Homo sapiens: one gene and its partners. The protein of the gene in region 3 interacts with the protein of the main gene of each other region in a biochemical or structural test. Each region holds a gene or a part of one and is shown on either strand. Other genes may lie near its edges.

Region 1 (5,081 bases), on a different chromosome or scaffold from region 3:
TGCACCTCAGTTTGAAGCCCCCTGCAAGGGAGATCTTAGTTCACAAGATTACACCTGTACTCAAGGTCCTGCAGGTGATTCTTACCTGGGGACAGTGATGATACTTACGTGAAGGCAGTGACATGTGATGCCAGGTGTGTGCTCTGCATACTGCCAGGCTTTGCTGCCTCCCTGCAGACTTGGGGGTGTCCTGCCCCACGTCTTCCTCACTCCGGCTCATCAGTCCCCTCCTCTTCTCAAGGAGAATCCAGAGTCAGCACCTAGAGTCCTCGGTGGGGGTGGGGAATGGCCAAGAGTCTGGACAGCTGGCAGTCTGCTCCCTGGTCCACTGGGGTGGGTCCTGGGAGGCTTAGGGCCCAAGGAATGGGGTGCAGGGCATCCTGGGTTTCCAGACCTGGAGCTGACACAGACTTCCGGGCTCCTGGGAGGTGGGAAATGAGCTTCCAAGCCTGTCTTTCCTGAAAATCCTGCCCTGGATTCCTTCCCTGGGGAGAATGCAGGCTTCCTGGGGAGTGGAGGGGGATGCTTCTGTGGCCTCATTTGTACCCCTGAGAGCATAGGGCTCAGCCGTTCCTGTCCATGTTTTTCCTGCCACCCCGCACAAATGTCCCTGGGATTTGAAGAATCTGCTCCACTCCCCTCTTCCCGTACAGGGGCCTGCAAACTAGAGGCATTTGCCCCTGGGCCAGCCGGGCTCCTGTCTGACCCCTCCTCACGAGGTGGACAGGTCCCCCAGGAAAGGGACCACGCCTTGCTCCTGTCTGCATTTCAAGGTCCTACAGTGGCCCCAAGCATGGACCAGGGGACTTTGGCAGGGGAAGATACTGACCCGATGGCGTCGCTACTGCCCCTCGTCTTGGTTCTGGACTTTCCCTCCCTCGAGGGTCATTCAGCTCCAGTGGCTGAACTTGCCGAAGGTCGTGTGGCCCAGCTGGGATCCACACCTGGCGGCTGCCCACTCCACCGTGCAGAAGAAGGCACCGGTCGCTTCCCCGGCCTCCAGATTGCCTCCTGGGTGGCACACCAGTTTATTTTTCTGTTCACTTTCAGGTAAAGCAGATGAGGTAGCACAGTGGTTGTCAGACTTCTAGCTTAAGGAATCTTTTTTGCTCTCTTAGCATTTTGAAGGACCCAGAAGCTTTTTATGTATGAGCACGAATCTATTGTTATTTACGCTATTAGAATTTACAAATATCTAATTATTAATGCATTTAAAAATAGTAATAAACTCATGACATGTTGGTATAAATAATGTGTTTTTATGGATAACAACTATTTTCAAAATAAGAAAAACACTTGGTGAGGCCGGTCGAGGTGGCTCAGGCCTGTAATCCCAGCACTTTGGGAGGCTGAGGCAGGAGGATTGCTTGAGGCCAGGAATTTGAGACCAGCCTAGGCAATATAATGAGACCCCATCTCTACAAAAAATAAAAAATTAGCCAGGTGTAGTGGCACGCACCTGTGGTCCCAGCTACTCAGGAAGCTGAGGTGGGAGGATTACCTGAGCCTGAGAGGTCGATGTTGCAGTGAGCCGTGATCACGCCACTGTACTCTAGCCTGGGTGACAGAGTGAGGAAAAAAAATAGTGCAGTGGCTCACACCTGTAACCCCAGCACTTTGGGAGGCCGAGACGGGTGGATCACTTGAGGTCAGGAGTTCGAGACCAGCCTGGCCAAAATGGTGAAACCCCATCTCCACTAAAAATACAAAAATTAGCCAGGCACAGTGGGGCACACTTGTAGTCCCAGCTACTCAGAAGGCTAAGGCACAAGAGATCACTTGAACCCGGCAGGCGGAGGTTGCAGTGAGCCAAGATTGCCCCACTGCACTCTAGCCTGGGCAACAGAGTGACAGTCCATCTCAACAACAACAAAAAAACACTTGGTGAGAAGAGTGGCATTGTTTAACATTTTTGTGGTCTTTTTGCTGTGAGGTTTAATGGAAGACAGCTGGGTTCCCGTATCTGCTCCTGCAGTCAGCTTGTTGCAATATCACAAGTTTTGTAGCTTCCGTTGTGCACTTGGGAGAGGATGAGCTTGAAAAAGCAGCTCCCATCTCAGTGTTATGATGAGAATGGTTTGACTTCATAGATCTCTCGAATAGGCTGGTTCCCGGGGCTGCACGCTGAGAGCCTCTGGGAGGAGCGTGTGATCCGCCTTGTCAGTGCATGGGTCCCGTTTGAAAGCTGGCTGTGCCATGTGGTCCAAAGGGTGCTTTGAATGATGCATGTACCTTTTCTTGTCGTTCAGGATATGTCTGTGGAGTTTAGTCAGGGGCTTCAGACAGCCACCAGCTGGTTCCGACCCCAGGGGCAGGCCCTCTGATTGTGGGGTCTAGGATGGTGGGAGCATGCAGAGGCACCTTCCAGGCTGTGGGGTCAAGGAGGCTGGCAGAGCCTAAGGCAGTTTAGGAGACTCTGAGAGAGCAGCCTGGCCAATTTATAGAGTGAGGCAGGCTTGCAAGTGTAGACAGGAGAGTGGAGAGGACTTTGTAGGTGTCTGGCTGCCCAAGGAAGCCTATAGTTTTCTTTTGAAGTCTGGTTTTGGTATCAGAGTAATACTGGCCTCATAAGATGACTTGGGAAGCATTGTCTTCCATTTTTTTCTGAAAAGTTTATGCAAAATTGGCCTTCATTCTTCTTTAAATGTTTGGTAGAATTCACCAATAAAGCCATCTGGGCCTAGGCTTTTCTTTGTGAAAACTTTTAAAATTATTGATTGGATCTCTGCTTGTCATAGGTCTTTTTAGATTTTCTGTTTCTTCTTGAGTCAAGTTTGTTAGTTTGTGTCCCACCAGAAATGTGTCCACTTCATGTGAGTTTCTCTAATGTGGTTGCTATGTAGTTGTTTGTAGCACCGTCTCATTATTATTATTGTTATTATTTTTTTGAGACAGAGTCTTGCTCTGTTGCCTAGGCTGGAGTGCAGTGGCGTGATCTCAGCTCACTGCAAGCTCCGCCTCCCGGGCTTACACCATTCTCTTGACTCAGCCTCCCGAGTAGCTGGCACTACAGGCGCCCACCACCAGGCCCAACTAATTTTTTTGTATTTTTAGTAGAGACGGGGTTTCACCGTGCTAGCCAGGATGGTCTTGATCTCCTGACCTCGTGATCCGCCCGCCTCAGCCTCCCAAAGTTCTGGGATTACAGGCATCAGCCACCACGCCCGGCCTGACTCCTTTTAATTCTGTAAGTTGGTAATAATGTCCCTTCTTTCATTCCTGAGTTTGGTAATTTGAGTCTTCCCTTCTTTTCTTGATCATTTCAGCTCAGGTTTGTAAATTTCGTTGATCTTTTCAAATAACCAACTTGTAGTTTCATTGATTTTCTTTATTGCTTTTCTAGCTTAGATTTCATTAACTTCAGCCCTAACCTTTATTATTTCCTTCCTTCTGCTAGCTCAGTTTCAGTTTCCCGTTCTTTTTCTGACTCTCACAAGGTGGAAGGTTTTGGTTATTGATTTGAGATTTTTCTTCTTTTTAACATAGACATTTACAGATCTGAATTTCCTTTAAGTACTGCTTTAGTTGTATTCCATAAGTTTTGATGTGTTTTGTCTTCTTTTTCACTCGTTTCAAAGTGTTTTCCAATTTCCCCGTGGTTTATTCTCTGACCCATTGGCTATTTAGATGTCTGTTTAATTTCCACATATTTGTGCATTTGTAAAATAAATTTCGAATTTCATTCTATTGTGGTTGGAGAACATTATTTGTATAATTTCAGTCCTGCTGATGTTTAATGAGGCTGTTTTATAGCCGGGCATGAGGCCTCTCCTGGAGAATGTTCCACGTGCCCTTGAGAAGAATGAGTATTCTGCCGTCTTTTGTGGCATGTGCTGCAGGTGTCTGCTAGGCTGCTCTAGACTCTGGGATACAACAGTGAACCAGACAGACAAATATTTCTGCCCTTGTAGGGTCGACATCCTCGCCAGGGGAGCAAACAATAATTAAAGGAGATCATAAATAAGCAGTGATGTAGTGTGGGAGGAAAGGAGAGCTTGCTGGTGGGGGCTGGGAGCCAGGGGGGCTGCTGTTTTAGCAGGATGGTCGGGGTGAGCTGCATTGAGGTAGCGGTCCTTGAGCAAACACTTAAAGGAGGTAAAGGAAGCGGTGTGTGATACAGGAAGAGTTCAGTGGAAATTGAGAGCACTTTTTTTCCCAATGCACATTTTATAAATTGTGCAAAATACCTATAACATAAAAAGTTACCCTTTTCACCATTTTTAGGTGTGTAGTTCTGAGGCATTAAGGATGCTCATCGTGCTCTGCAGCCATCGTCACCATGTATCTGTAGAACTCTTCAGCTTGCAGAACTGAAACTACGTCCCCACTAAACACTAGCAAACCAGCCCCCTTCTCCCAGCCCCTGGCGACCACCAGTCTGTTTTCTGTCTCTTTGACTTCTGTAGGGACCTCATCCAAGTGGAATCATGCAGTGTTTGTCTTTTTGAGTCTGGCTTAATTCACTCAGCATAATGTTCTCAAGCCTCATCCATGTTGTAGCGTGTGTCAGAATTTCCTTCCTTTTTGTGGCTGAGTAATATTCCATTGTGTGGATGGGCCACATTTTGTTTATACATTCATCCATCCTTGAGGACCTGGGTGGCTTCACCCTCTGGCTGTTGTGAATAATGCTACTGCGAACATGGTTGTGCAAGTATCTTGAGTCCTTGCTTTTAGAAAACACCTTCAAAAGCAGCGTCCAGCCCCAGGCCCGTCTGGTCTTGAGATACTAAAGCTGAGATCTTTTACCCACTCGCTCCAGCCTAGGCTGCTTTCTCACAGAAGGAGGCCCCACCTTTCTTCATGGGTCTCAGGAGAAAGTAGGGGTGACCCTGAGTGTGGGAGAAATTGTGGGACATGACTCCTTCCCATGTCTGGTGTCTTCCAGTGAGGCAAGGTGCTGCTCCCTGGGAACCTGGTGGGGGTGTCTCATCTTTGTGGGTTCAGCCCCAGCCTAGAGCTGGATCCCAAGAAAAACAGGGACCAGAGACAGTAGCAGGGGGGAGAGTGTCTCCTGCAAAATGTAGCTGATTAACTGATTAGATGCTTTCCGGTTGCCTCATGATCTTAAACGCAGGCTG
Region 2 (5,081 bases), on a different chromosome or scaffold from region 3:
GAGAGCTGGTCAGGGGAGGCACTGCATCCCCAGCCTGGGGTGAGAACTCTAGAGGCCTCAGGAAATTGCTGGGTGATGCAGGGTGAGGCAGGGAGGCTCCAGCTGAGCCTCCTCCCTCATCTTGCAGAGATGGTGCCACTGAGTCACCTCGAAGAAGAACAGCCCCCAGCACCTGAGTCCCCAGAGGTGAGTAGCAGAGGCTGGGGGACCCCCGCTCATCTTGTTCTTTCCAGAGTGGACCAGGCACCCGCAGAAAGGGCTGGGTTTGCCGAGGTCTTGCATGTAGCTTAATTAGCATCGGTGACTTTGGAGGCAAGGTGACGGCACGTGGGACTGCCCTGCCTTGGAAGTCGGGTGGGGGCAGTGCTGGAGGGGCACTGGACAGGTGAGTTTTGCAGGACGTGTAAGAATTTCCCAGGAGGAGGGCACAGCTGTGAGCAAAAAAGTACAGAAAGTCAGAAGCTGAGTTGGAGAAGTTTGGACAGGGGAGGAGGTAGCATCGGGCACCAGGACCAGTGGTTTGGGCTTGGGGGCAGGAGAAGCCTTCCCAGCTCTGCAGCGGGGCAGGACCCTAAGCCCTTCCCATCCCCTAGAGCCGCGCCCTGGTCGGCCAGTCACGGAGGAAGCCATGCGAAAGCGACTTTGAGACCATCAAACTCATTAGCAACGGAGCCTATGGGTGAGTCCCTGAGTCCTGCATAGACCCATTTCACAGATGCCTGAGGGGATGGTTGAGGCCCAGGCAGCTCCTGCATCCCCCTCCTACCCCAGCAGGGCTCACACATTCATCCTTGAATGGGCAGAGAAGGCACCTGAGGACTGGAGGGGGAAGTGGAGACACGCCATAGCGAGGTTACAGCCTCATGTGTGCTCTGTCCACGAGCCAGGCCTTTACCTGCCCCAGGTGTAGGGCGTTCTAGGGGCTTGGGGGCTGATCAAGGAAATAGATGCCCACCCAGTGGGAGTAGCACGCAGTGAGCTTTATTTAGGTGCTGCTTTGAATGGCAGGCTTGCATACAAGGGAAGTCCCTCATAGCATAAGCCTTTTGGAGGCTGAGGTTCCAGGAGTCACCATCAAGAGGGAGAGGCCGGCAAGGGAACTCCCCGGGCAGAGGGGGATCAGAGAGGGGGCTTACATGTCTAGGTGATGTTGTTCAACAGCATGGGCACTCAATCTCTGGGTCAGAGACTCCCTGCAGGGTGGTAGCAGCTTAGGGTCTTGAAATCCACAAAGTTCATCTTATCCATGGCTCAGAGATGGTGCAGTTTCACGAGTCTGCAAAGCAGACAGGCTCTCAGTGGCTAAAATTTTGCTTACTTGGTCTGTGTGTAAAACAAACGGATGTGTAAAACTTTGAGTTTGGTGCTAGCGGTCTTTTAAAAGAGCTAGACCAGGTGCGGAGGCACTTTGGGAGGCCAAGGTAGGAGGATCGCTTGAGGCCAGGAGTTCGAGACCAGCCTGGGCAACATGGCAAAACTCCATCAATACTAAAAATAGAATAATTAACTGGGCGTAATGGCACATGCCTGTAATTCCAGCTACTTGGGAGGCTGAAGTTGGAGGATCACCTGAACCCAGGAGGCAGAGGTTGCAGTGAGCCGAGATCACCCCACTGCACTCCAGCCTGGGTGACACAGTGAGACCATCTCAAAAAAAAAAAAAAAGGAAAGAAAGAAAGAAAGAAATACACAAGCAGCCAGGTGCAGTGGCTCTCGCCTATAATCCCAGCACTTTGGGAGCCCGAAGTGGGAGGGTCACTTGAGGCCAGGAGTTTGAGACTAGCCTCCACAACATAGCGAGACCCCATCTCTACAAAAAATTTAAACATTAGCCAGGTTCTGTTGTGGGAGGATCATTTGAGCCGGGGGGGTGGTAAAGACTATAGTGAGCCGTGATCTCATGACTGTGCTCCAGCCTGGGCAACAGAGTGAGGCGCTATCTCAAAAAACATAAGATAAAATAAAAATAAAAGAAACATACAACCTAGAGGCCAATATACAAGGGCCATGTGCAGCCCATTTATATGGCCCCCAGCCATGGTGGCTTAAACCCAAAGGTGGCTGCTCTGGGAGGGGGAACAGGTAAGGAGAATGGGTGGCCCAGGTGGAGGGCACAGCACAGGCAAAGGCCAGGCAGGTTGGGATCTGGGCTCAAGTTGAGCTGTAGTGCCTGCTGGGGCCTCGATCTCCGGTCCCAGCAAGCCTGGCCCTCTGTCCCCAGGGCCGTCTACCTGGTGCGGCACCGTGACACACGGCAGCGCTTTGCCATCAAGAAGATCAACAAACAGAACTTGATCCTGCGTAACCAGATCCAGCAGGTCTTTGTGGAGCGTGACATTCTCACCTTTGCCGAGAACCCCTTTGTGGTCAGCATGTTCTGCTCCTTTGAGACCCGGCGCCACCTATGTATGGTCATGGAATACGTGGAAGGTACGCTCACTGGGGCTTGCATGCCTCCAGCGATGGGGAGCTCACCCCTCCACGCCTGGGAGAAAATTTTTAGACCAAGTTGAGGTCTGTTCTGTCCTCCATGAGGTCTCACCCTGCTTTGGGGAACCCTCAGGAACCCCAGTCTGGGGTAGGGAGCCCAGCCATGGGGGTTTAGGGCTGGAGGAGCCCAGACAGGAGTGTGTGAGGATGGGACCCTGGAGGCAAGAGGAGGGTGGCCATCCTAGGTGGGGGGAACTGATGGGCAGAGGCCTGGAGACCAGAAGTGAAGGCAGGGAGATGTATGGTTCAGGCAGGTAAAGTACTATTACCAAAGTACTGCCAGGCGAGAGAGCGAACATGCACTTAGGAGACACCAGCTGTATACAGCACTAATTGCTGCCCTGTCGGGGAGAATCAGAAGGCAGGGTCTCAGCTTGGCGCGCTGGCTCACGCCTGTAGTCCCAGCACTTTGGGAGGCCGAAGTGGGCTGATCGCTTGAGGTCAGGACTTCGAGACCAGCCTAAGCAACATGGCGAAACCCCCATTCACGCCTATAGTCCCAGCTACTCGGGAGGCTGAAGCAGGAGATTCGCTTGAACTCTAGAGGCGGAGCTTGCAGTGAGCCGAGACTGCGCCACTGCACTCTAGCCTGGGCAACAGAGCGGGCAACAGAGTGAGACTCTGTCTCAAAAAAATAAATAAAAATTTAAAAAATAGGCCAGGCGCGGTGGCCAACGCCTGTAATCTCAGCACTTTGGGAGGCCAAGGCTGGTGGATCACGAGGTCAAGAGATCGAGACCATCCTGACCAACATAGTGAAGCCCCATCTCTACTAAGAATACAAAAATTAGCTGGGTGTGGTGGTGTGCGCCTGTAATCCCAGCTACTCTGGAGGCTGGGGCAGGAGACTCGCTTGAACCCGGGAGGCGGAGGTTGCAGTGAGCCGAGATCGCGCCACTGCACTCCAGCCTGGCGACAGAGCGAGACTCTCTCTCAAAAAGAAGAAAAAATTAAAAAATTAAAAATAAATGAAGGTAGGGTCCGCCCCTTCCCTCTCCCCCGACCCTCCCCGCTGAGATAGAACAAACTGGGGACCTTTTGCAGGAGGTAAAGCGAGGAGGATGCATAGGCATTGGGCATAACCTAAGGGGCGGGCGGGGGGCGGGGGTGCCCCGGGCCTCATGACTACATCCGCCCTTCTCCCAGGCGGCGACTGCGCCACGCTCCTGAAGAACATGGGCCCGCTGCCCGTGGACATGGCCCGCCTGTACTTCGCCGAGACGGTGTTGGCGCTGGAGTACCTGCATAACTATGGCATCGTGCACCGTGACCTCAAACCAGACAAGTGAGCTGAGCTAGCATGAGCGGGGCCTCGCGGAGGGCGGGGCCAGAGAGGATCAGGGGCGGGGCCAAAGAGGATCAGGGCAGAGCCTCTGAGGTGCATCCCGGGACCCTTCAGGAGCCCCATCTGTCTGAGCTCTGTTGGTACCTCCTGACAGGAAGGCAGGGAATGAGCGCATGGTGAACATCTTGTGTGTACAGAGGAGAGGAGAGCAGACACTTAATAGGCGTCTGCTGTATGCAGGGGAAGGCCGGTGCACTTATGGAGGTGCTGCCAATCCAGGGGAGAGGATGTGCACTTAGGATGCACACACTGTATACAGGAGAAGGGGCTGCGCACCCAGAGCTGCTGCTGCACAAGGGGAGAGAACATGCACTTATAAGACACCAACTACACACACAGAACAGGATTATGCAATTTGCGAGACCTTACATGTAAAGACAGTGACCGTGCATGTCTTGAGCACCTGCTGTATATTAGTGCAGGAAAGCAAGGAAGAGAACGTGTTTACTGAGAGCCTTAGGATGTTTATTTTATTCTGGTAGGTGGTAAGCACCTACTGCATGCCAGACCCTCTGTGGGCAACTGGGAGACACAGGGCCACCTGCTTTGAAACCCCTGTATTATTTTCTCCTCTGCATTTATTGAGCGCCTGCTGTGTGCAGGGAAAAAGGAATGCCTGTTTGTCAGGTGTCCTCGAGATACGAGGCAAGAACTGACATTTCTCACATACATGTGTGGAGATGTGAACATGAGTGTTAAGAGCCTTGCATGTAGGCCAGGCTTGGTGGCTCACACCTGTAATCCCAGCACTTTGGGAGGCCAAGGCGGGCGGATCACCTGAGGTCAGGAGTTCAAGCCCAGCCTGGCCAACATAGTGAAACCTTGTCTCTACTAAAAATACAAAAATCAGCTGGGAGTGGTAGCGCGCACTTGTAGTCCCAGCTACTCAGGAGGCTGAGGCAGGAGAATCTCTTGAACCCGGCGGAGGTTGCAATGAGCCAAGATCGTGCCACTGCACCCAAGCCTGGGCGACAGAGCGAGACTCCATCTTAAAAAAAAAAAAAAGCGCCTCGCATGTTTTCAGGGCATTTTGCAGTTGGCAAGTGGCTTAGAAAACAGACATGTATGTGGCACCTGCTGTATACTTGGGCCTGTGCTCGATGCTCTAAGGAACTCAGAAGCATGAATAACTCCTTACACACTAACGTTGGGTTTCTATATCACATTTTCTTGGTTGGCATGTACTTGTTAGGCACCAGGTGTATACAAAATAGGCAGAAGAACAGTTATTAGGCAATGACTGTGT
Region 3 (5,081 bases):
AGGATGAAAAGAATTTGAAGGGTAAAGATGGAATGTTACAAACTTTAAACCTGAAAATTGTAACTTTCCAATTTTTCCATTTGAGCATGTTGGACTACAACTTATTAAATATTTAATTATATGTATCAGAGATGAGTTATAGGATCCTGAAGAAAAAAACATTAGGAAATTTAAAGAAGAGATAATCAAGAACATTTTACCCATATATCATCATCCAAAGAACAGCATGCTGTTCTTATTGCTCCCCTACACTGACCAATTCACCTTATACCTTTTACCACATGCTCAAAGATATGTGCTTAAGGAGATAATGATGAACATACAAATGAGAAAATTTTAAACTTTCTATTTTCTAGGAAGATTCAGCCATTTTACAAATATTTAAGGTATAAATGTTTTAAGGCCTAAATAGGTAAAATAAAGTCAGGGAAAGGTTTACCTGAGGTGGTAGATATTTATGAGTAGAGCAAATCACAAAATACTTAAGTATATGCAGCATAACAGCACAAAACCTAGTGAAAGAGCCTCAGAAGTTTAAGACAGAAAGTTTAATGGTAAGAACACAAAACAAGAGATTGAATCAAAGATCTGTTTAGCTTTGGACTCCCTCACAGGTATAGCTCTAAGACTGCAGAACCTTTTTTGTTTAATCAAAAAGCCTATACTAAAAGGATCACAAGATTTCTTAATTCATGTACATCTATCATCCGTAAGTTGATCTAAACTATTCTTAAACCTCCAGTTTTAAATAACAGCAGCATTTGAGGATAATGATGAGCACCTGCATATCATTTTATTATGAAAAATATATTTTTCAAATTTCAAGGGTTGAAAGTTTAGCTCTTGAAAGTTTAGAATTTAGTAAACAAGTCAATCTTCACCTTTTCCATAACATATTCTAATCTATCGAATAAGAATAGATTTATGAAATCTGAATACTCAACCATGCAAAAAGCTGGTTCATTAAAAAGACTAATAGAAAAAAGGCAAATTTCTGATGAGATTACACAAGAAAAAATAAAGACAATATCACAAATAAAAATGGAAACAAAACTACAGATACAAGAGAAAAAATATGTAAGTAAATAAAATCTTTATGCAATCATTTAAGACAAAATGGTCAAAGACTTAGAAAAATCTAAGAAAACTGATGAATGAAGAAATTTAATCACCAGTTTAAAATGTTCCTACTAGAAATACAAAGTGCAGATGATTTTACAGGTGAGTTTACTAAGCTTTCAAAGAATTTACCATTCAATCTTATACAAACTGTTTCCCCAGGGAACAGAAAAGGTACTATGAGTCTCATATAACTTTAATTTTAAAAAATCAAAAGGGACAGTAGAAAAAGGAAAACCACAAGCCAACTTCACTTATATCAGATGCAAAAATTGAAATAAACTTTAATATTAGCAAACTGAATCCATCAGTTTATTTAAAAATACTACATCAAAACTATGTTGGATTTAACCAAGAAATGCAAACTTGATTTAACAAAAAAAATATAGACTTCTGGGTTAAAATTGTAGCTTAAACATACACATTGTTTTTATCCTTTCCAAGCCCACTAACATAATAGCAAATGGATATTTTTTAGACATACAAGCCAGCAAGAATGGAAATAACAGCAGAAGAGACAACAGCAACAAAATTTCAGAAGCTGGAAAGCAGAAGAAAGTAACTGACTTAGCCCCAATGAACTGCTTGCAAGTTATTTAAAAAGCACGTAGGCCTGGAAGGGTTAGCACACAACTATAATCACAACACTTTGGGAGGCCAAGTCAGGAGGATGACTTGAGACCAGGAGTTTGAGACCAGCCTGGGCAATATAGTGAGACCCCTTCTCTACAAAAAACTTTTAAAAGTCACATGTGGTGGCCCACGCCTGTAGTCCCAGCTACTTGGGAGGCTGAGGCAGGAGGATTGCTCAAACCAAGGAGTTTGAGGCTGCAGTGAGTTATGATGGCACCATTGCACTCCAGCCTGGGCAACAAAATGAGACCCTGTCTCTAAATAATAATGGTAAAAAACAGGTGGACTCGTAGATACCCTCCTTAATTCTGTACCAACTGGCAGCTGCCCACCCCCCTTCCCCAGCTTCTAAAGATGGTAGACTAGCTTTGGAAGGTATAAAACAAGTCTTTAGCCTGAGGTTTACTGTCAGTTGAGAACCTGTAATACAGAAGCAGGTTAATAATTAATCACCATATGCATACTAAATGCTCAATGAGTTTTTACATGTGCATATACCTGTGTTATCAACACCTAGATACCGAACATTTCTAGCACTCCAAGAGACTAAAGATGCTATTTTTAAAAAGATAATTAATTAAAAACAAGATAAAAACTCAATAGAATTGTTGAAAGATAAAGCTGGGGAAATCTCAGAAAAAAGATAGCGAATAAGAAAACCAAGCAAAAAAGAGGTAGATGAGAAATCAGTAAGTTCAACATTCAAATAATTGGATTCCAGATGGAGAACAGAGAAAAAGAGGTGAAAATCATCAACAAAGTAATTTTTAAAATAATGTCTCAGAAATTTAAGAACAGGAACTATTCAGATTCCAAGATCCCCACATCCACTCATGTCATTGTGAAATTTCAGAATGCTACCGACATACAGAAGATCATACCAGGATCCAGGACAGTGGGGGGGACAGATAACATAAAACGGATTACATATGAAGAATTAGCAGTCAAAAAGGCTTCATAATTCTCAACAGCAACAGTGTAAGCTAGAAAAAAAACAATGTCAGTGACTGATATTCTCAAAATTCTGGAGGGAAATTGTTTCCAAATGAGAATTGTAACCCAGAAAACCAAAAAGGGCCATTCAAGTATGAGTAAAATGAAAACATTTTTGGAAATGCAAATTCTCAAAAAAATATATCTTCTGTGCACCGATTCATGGGGAGCTACCAGATGTCCTAAATGAAAACGGGATGTAAATCAAGAAATAATAAGACACAAGATACCTAAAAACACAGGATATAATTCAGCAGAGAAGCATAGGAAATTTGCAGGTTATGGATAAAAGAAATCCCAGGTTGACAGGGCTGAATCAGGAGGAGTGTAGGGTCAGGCAGGCACTGCTGTTCTTCAAGATCAGCTATTTGCCCAGCACTTTGGGAGGCCGAGGCGGGCGGATCACGAGGTCAGGAGATCGAGACCATCCTGGCTAACACGGTGAAACCCCGTCTCTACTAAAAATACAAAAAATTAGCCGGGCGTGGTGGCGGGCGCCTGTAGTCCCAGCTACTCGGGAGGCTGAGGCAGGAGAATGGCGTGAACCAGGGAGGCGGAGCTTGCAGTGAGCCGAGATCGCGCCACTGCACTCCAGCCTGGGCGACAGAGCGAGACTCCGTCTCAAAAAAAAAAAAAAAAAAAAAGATCAGCTATTTGAAGCTTTTTGACTAAACCACATACAGTGTAACTTTGTTAAAAACACTTTACATTTAAAAACTTTTTTTAAAAAGGGGGAAAAAAATGAAACTAGCCATAAACCTGTGAGAATTTTTTTCTTTCAAAATAGGAGTTAACACTAAAAAACAAATTAGAAAACAATACCATACAAACATACAAAAAAAATGTTTAAACTGCAAAAATGCTTCAGGAATACCCATTGTATATAATTACTAAATTATTCTTAATTAGCCTCTTATTAAAGAAAGCATTTCTATCTGGAAACAATGTAAACCTAGATGAAGCTAAGATACGGAGGGTTGGACTAGTTAGACTGATTCCAAGAATGCATTAAGGAATATATATTGATGTAGTTGTTTGCCACTTAATAAACATGAAACTAGGTACAGAGTAATGATTAAAAGAAGTAATTTTGGGCTGGGCATGGTGGCTTACACCTGTAATCCCAGCATTTTGGGAGGCGAAGGCGGGCAGATCGCTTGAGGCCAGAGTTCGAGACCAGCCTGGCCAACATGGCAAAACCCTGTCTCTACTAAAAATACAAAAATTAGCTGGGTGTGATGGTACACGCCTGTAATCCCAGCTATTCAGGAGGCTGAGGCAGGAGAAGCGCTTGAACCTGGGAGGTCGTGCCACTGCACTCCAGCCTGGTCAACAGAGTGAGACTCTGTTTCAAAAAAATATATGAATAATAAAAAAGTAATTTAAAAAAACACTTTGTTGACAGCTATATTGGCACCATACTTGTTCGATTATTTCATTTTTCTTAACACAATATTCCTACTTTAAAATCATGTATTTACCCTTCTTAATAACAATGCCATAAGAAATGAAAATCTTTTACTTCTTTTAGAAGAGCATATCTTAGGAGGGCAACGCTGCAGAAAAGACAGCAGTCACTGACATCACCCAATACTGGCTTCCTCTTTGAGGTTTTCTCATGAAGAATCTGGTTTAATTACCACAAAGGAACCCTTTCCCCTGCCACTTCCCCTTCTTATGGAAGCCAAGGAAAAATTAAAAAGTAAATGACTTCCCCTTTAATAACCCATCAGGAGGAAGCTAGGAGAAAAGCAGAGGCAGAGCTACAGGCAAAGTTACAAAAGGGTCTAGGGACCGGAATACAGCCATCAGCCAGGATCAGGAGCAGACAACCGAATCTAAATACTGGAATTTTCAGACTACTTCTTTGTCTCCAAGTACAGTAGAATTATAGTTGCATGAAAAAAGGTTAATCTGAAATCTTATACTTACCTTTTCATTAGGTACACATTTACCCCAGTACCAAAGCCAAGCTTCTGCATAAACGGAGAGGCCGGGATATTTATAGTTGGAGTTGAACATAATACTAAATGTCAGAGAAATAAAAAATAAAATTAATAAAAAATAAAAATAAAGCATCTTAACATTCTCAATATACTACTGCCAAGAGTATTAATTGGCACAGTCTTTTTGGAGAGCAATTTGACAACATATATCCTAATTTTAAATGGGTATCTTTTGACCAAGCCTACTTTTGGAGTTTTATCCTACAGTAACTCTGAAGCAGAGATTGGGAAATGGCCTGTTTTTGTATGGCCTACAAGCTAAGAACTGTTTTCACATTTTTAAAACATTGTTAAAAGATAAAGGGGTTGGATGTGGTGGCTCATGCCTAT
Region 4 (5,081 bases), on a different chromosome or scaffold from region 3:
GTCAAGGGGAACGCTATCCTTCTAGCCTTGTTCGGGACAAAAATCTTGACATTATCCTTGACTCTTCTTTTTGCCACCCCCTTATGTAATCTGATGTAGAATCTGACCACTTCTCACCACCTCCACTACTATTCCCCTGGTCCAACTCCTATCATCTCTCATCCCTGTTAACCTGCCAGCTGGTCTTCCTGCTTTTGCCTTGGCCTTCTTTTATTCTATTTTCAACATAGTGGTCACTTGCTCCTGAAAATCTCCCAATAGCTTCCTGTTTCAGAATAAAAGCCAAAGTCCTTGCCATGACCTAAAAGGCCGTACATGGTCTGCCTCCCAGCCCCGTTACCTTTGTGACCCCATTTACTACTCTGTCCCCCTCACTTACCCAGCTCCAGTTACTCTGGGTCTCCTTACTGTCTAACACTCCTGTTAGTAACTCCTGTTACTGTCCTAACACTGTCTCCCTGGCTGGAATGTTTCTCCCAGATATTTGCATGGCCAACTCCCCCATCTCCTAAAGTCTTTGTTCAAACATCTTATTAATGGCTTACCCTAACTACCATATTTAAAATTTACAAACTGACACCCTGGGCAGCATTTCTGACCCCTTCCCTTGCTGTGTTTCATTTTCCCATTACACTTAACATCTTCCAATATACTGTATAATTTACTTATTTTATTTTGTAATTATCATACTGTACAATTGAATTTTTTCCCCTTAAGGTATACAGTTCTATGAATCTGGACACATACATAAATTCTTGTAACTGTCACCACAATCAGGATACAGGACCATTCCATGGTTTCAGAAAACTCTGTTGTGCTATCCCTTTATAATCATATCCCTTCTCACCCCTAACCCTTAGAAACCACTGAATTTATTTTTATTTATTTATTTATTTATTTATTTAGTCAAGGCAGGGTCTCGCTCTGTTGCCCAGGCTGGAGTGCAGTGGCGCAATCTCAGCTCACTGCAACCTCTGCCTCCTGGGTTCAAGCCTCCTGCCTCAGCCTCCTGAGTAGCTGGGCTTACAGGCGTGCACCACTATGCCTGGCTAATTTTTGTTTTTTTAGCAGAGGTGGGGTTTCACCATGTTGGCCAGGCTGGTCTTGAACTCCTAACCTCAAGTGATCTGCTCACTTTAGCCTCTCAAAGTGCTGGGATTACAGGCATGAGCCACGACGCCTGGCTAGAAACCACTGAATTTTTCATCATATATTTTTTTCTTTTCAATAATGGGGTCATACAACTTTTGAGACTGGTATAATGCCTTTCAGATTCATCCAAGTTACTGAGTTATAAATAGTTTGTTCCTTTTTATTTCTGAATAGTGTTCTATTCTATAGCTGTATCACAGTTTATCCATTCACTTCCATTGAAGGAAATTTGGGTTGTTTCCAGCTGTGGTACTTACGAATAGAGCTGCTAAGAACATTAGTGTACAGGCTTTTGTGTGAATGTAAGTTTTCATTTCTCTAGAATTTCATTAAATTATTAATTACATTATTATTTTTTGCATATTTTATTCACTGGCTAATAATTCTACATGCCTAAAACAGTTCCTGGTATATAGTAGGAGCTCAATAAATTAGTGAATTTGCTATGTTATTTTAGAATGAAGAGGAAGAGTGAAAGAGTCACTCTGAACTCATTCAAGGTTCATGTCACCAGACTCTAGACTGCAGTCTACTCAAACCCCAAATGGCCAGGAGACTTGAGCTGAAAGACACCTGCAAGTTGAGAATGTAAAAGGCTTTTTACTCAAAGCAAAGCAATTCCTTCCTCGTGTTTTTGGTGGTCATTTATCAGCCTCCTGACTTGAGAGAAGAGCTTGGGATGAGGTTGGAGAGAATCCTCCTGAGAGAATACTTTAACAGTGACTGTCAACATAACTCATTCCTGTGCAAAATGCACAGCCAGATATTCCACTCTGAGAATAATCCAGGAACAAACTTGCTTGCAAAAGCAGGGGAAATAATGTTGTGTGACTAACTTAGTTTCACTTAAACTCATAGTAAAGATCACCAGTTGGGGCATGGAAAAGGTAAGAGTTAGAGATAAAAAGGAACATAACGATTATATGAGAAGTTGATGTTTATAAAAGAGGTTGATCCATTTATCCAAATATGTGTGTTTGCAGCCGTAGGCTGTGTCTGCCCTATTATGTATCCTTTTTGGATAAGGTTTTTGTTTCGTTTCGTTTTGTTTATTTGTTTGTTTGTTTGAGATGGAGTTTTGCTCTTGTTGTCCAGGCTGGAGTGCAATAGCATGACCTTGGCTCACTGTAACCTCTGCCTCCCGGGTTCAAGCAGTTCTCCTGCCTCAGCCTCCTAAGTAGCTGGGATTACAGGTGCCCGCCACCACACCTGGCTAATTTTGTATTTTTAGTAGAGATGGACTTTCGCCATGTTGGCCAGGCTGGTCTTGAACTCCTGACCTCAAGTGATCCACTCGCCTTGGCCTCCCAAAGTGCTGGGATTACAGGTATGAGCCACCGTGCCCGGCCTGGATAAGCTTTTTTTTTTTTTTTTTTTTTTTTTTGTGATGGAGCCTCACTTTCTAGCCCAGGCTGGAGTGCAGTGGCACAATCTCAGCTCACTGCAACCTCTGCCACCTGGGTTCAAGCAATTCTCCTGCCTCAGCCTCCCCAGTAGCTGGGATTACAGGTGCCTGCCACCGCACCCGGCAAATTTTTATATTTTTTAGTAGAGATGGGGTTTCACCATCTTGGCCAGACTGGTCTTGAACTCCTGACCTCGTGATCCACCCACCTCGGCCTCCCAAAGTGCTGGGATTACAGGTGTGAGCCACCATGCTCAGCACCAGCCTAGATAAGCTTTAAAAAGCCAGGGTGGGCGTGGTGGCTCAAGCCTGTAATCCCAGCACTTTGGGAGACTCCGAGGTGGGCAGATCACTTGAGGTCAGGAGTTGGCAAGCAGTCTGGCCAACATGGTGAAACCCCGTCTCTACTAAAAAAAAAAAAGCCACTTAACAGGTGGGGTGCAGTGGCTCATACCTATAATCCCAGCCCTTTGGGAGGCCAAGGCGGGTGGATTGTTTGAGCTCACCAATTAGAGACCAGCCTGGGCAAATGGCAAAACCCTGTCTCTACTAAAAGTACAAAAATTAGGTGGGTATGGTGGTGTGCACCTGTAGTCTCAGCCACTCAGGAGGCTAAGATGGGAGGATGGTTTGAGCCCAGGAGGCGGAGGTTGCAGTGAGCTGAGATCATGCCACTGCACTTCAACCTGGGTGATAGAGCCAGACCTTGTCTCAAAAAAAAAAAAAAAAAAAAAAAAGAAGCCACTTGCATTCAGTTTAAAATCAGATGCTGCCTCATGCCCCAAACATGGAACTCTTCATAACCTTATTCATTAGAGCTTAGAATTCAGTAAGAATCAGTTGGATTTTGGATCCTATCCAGTGCATTATAGTTTTTGAAGCCTCAAGATTTCCGTTTACATGTCTTTCATGTTTAAAGTTTGAGCAACAGGCTGGGTGGTGGCTCATGCTTGTAATCCCAACGCTTTGAGAGGCTAAGGCGGGAGGGTTGCTTGAAGCCAGGAGTTTGAGATCAGCCTGGGCAAAATAGCAAGACCTTGTCTCTACAAAAAATTAAAAAGTTAGCCAGATGTGTCGGTGTGTGCCTATAGTTGCAGCTACTCAGGAGGCTGAGGCAGGATCACTTGAACCCAAGAATTTGAGGTTACAGTGAGCTATGATTGTGCCACTGCCCTGCAACCTGAGGGACAGAGTGAGACCCTGTCTCAAAAATAAAATTAAGATAGAGTTTGAACAAGGTCTCAGAATAAGTTTTCTTCATTTCTTAAATACGTTTTTAAAATAAATACTATGGACTTAACAAAAATTTTAAATATACAGAACAACATAAAGAAAAAAATGCAATCCTACACCTGTATATAAGCACTATTGATATTTTGATTAAGTTCCTTCCAGACATCTTTACAGGTACATGTGTGCAGTACATGTATGTGTTTTTGTCACTCTAAAGAAGAGAAGGGATCACAGTAATGCTTTTGGGGTGGGAGGAAGCCCACCTTCACGTTCAGTAAAAGGGATACGTGAGGCCGGGCATAGTGGCTCAAGCCTGTTATCCCAGCACTTTGGGAGGCCAAGGCGGGTGGATCACGAGGTCTGGAGATCGAGACCATCCTGGCTAGCACGGTGAAACCCCGTCTCTACTAAAAATACAAAAAATTAGCCGGGCGTGGTGGCGGGCGCCTGTAGTCCCAGTTACTGGGGAGGCTAAGGCAGGAGAATGGCGTGAACCCAGGAGGCAGAGTTTGCAGTGAGCTGAGATTGTGCCACTGCACTCCAGCCTGGGCGACAGAGTGAGACTGCATCTTAAAAAAAAAAAAAAAAAAAAAGGGATACATGAATGGAAGAAAGAAAATTAGCTTCAGCATCTGAACACTCAAAACAGTTTGTAAACATCAGTGTTTAATTAAATTATTTTGAGGATTATCTTCAACTATCAGGAAAAATGAAATGATTCTGAAATATGTTGTGGATTCTGAGTTGAACTGAAAGCTCCATGTGGGGGTGTAAAGGCTCTGCTTATCCAGCCACGTGTCCAGGTTAAGGCCTTAACATAGGACTGAAACAGAAGACTGTTAACTTTTTGCCATTCCCAAACATAGAAACAGATGTCCATCCACAGCTCTTCAGCCATTCTGGATGGCTAATTAGATGGGGGTATGGACTGCATTGCCATCAACTCAGATAAAATTCATTGCTCTTTTAATAAGGCAATACATAAATTGTATGTGTATGTCTGTTTTTGTTTTAGGATGTGTGTAGTAATCAGTTCAGTGATGCTACTGTGTGATTGAATGAACTGAGTAGATCGTTAAGGGTTCTTTTCTAACCACTATATTATTCAAGAATTCATTTAGAATGTCTTTAATTTCCTCCAGTTGGTAGCCCAATAGTGTACTGCCTTAAATGTTCAAAAAGCATGCCTCTGCCATTTGCAGTAACTGGAAACCTTAGGAATTTCTGCCAAAGTCCTTCAAAGCATAAAGCTGAAGTATGTATTGAAATGCTTGAGTCAGCTGCTCAAGGG

Evidence for each region. The genes of interacting proteins can lie anywhere in the genome.
Region 1: the proteins of PBK (region 3) and SHANK2 interact in a test that uses a peptide from one of them, tested with the Homo sapiens proteins (one large-scale study listed by IntAct).
Region 2: the proteins of PBK (region 3) and MAST3 interact in a test that uses a peptide from one of them, tested with the Homo sapiens proteins (one large-scale study listed by IntAct).
Region 4: the proteins of PBK (region 3) and SNTB2 interact in a test that uses a peptide from one of them, tested with the Homo sapiens proteins (one large-scale study listed by IntAct).

Annotation. Positions count from the first base shown.
Region 1 is NC_000011.10:71,241,502-71,246,582, reverse strand, and holds part of SHANK2 (SH3 and multiple ankyrin repeat domains protein 2), read left to right. Parts: intron 1-3,054; exon of another isoform or gene 3,055-3,187; intron 3,188-5,081. UniProt on the Homo sapiens protein: Seems to be an adapter protein in the postsynaptic density (PSD) of excitatory synapses that interconnects receptors of the postsynaptic membrane including NMDA-type and metabotropic glutamate receptors, and the actin-based cytoskeleton.
Region 2 is NC_000019.10:18,128,273-18,133,353, forward strand, and holds part of MAST3 (microtubule-associated serine/threonine-protein kinase 3), read left to right. Parts: intron 1-127; coding exon 128-186; intron 187-593; coding exon 594-679; intron 680-2,221; coding exon 2,222-2,430; intron 2,431-3,636; coding exon 3,637-3,775; intron 3,776-5,081.
Region 3 is NC_000008.11:27,823,428-27,828,508, forward strand, and holds part of PBK (lymphokine-activated killer T-cell-originated protein kinase), read right to left. Parts: intron 4,772-5,081; coding exon 4,678-4,771; intron 1-4,677. UniProt on the Homo sapiens protein: Phosphorylates MAP kinase p38. Seems to be active only in mitosis. May also play a role in the activation of lymphoid cells.
Region 4 is NC_000016.10:69,238,659-69,243,739, forward strand, and holds part of SNTB2 (beta-2-syntrophin), read left to right. Parts: intron 1-5,081. UniProt on the Homo sapiens protein: Adapter protein that binds to and probably organizes the subcellular localization of a variety of membrane proteins. May link various receptors to the actin cytoskeleton and the dystrophin glycoprotein complex.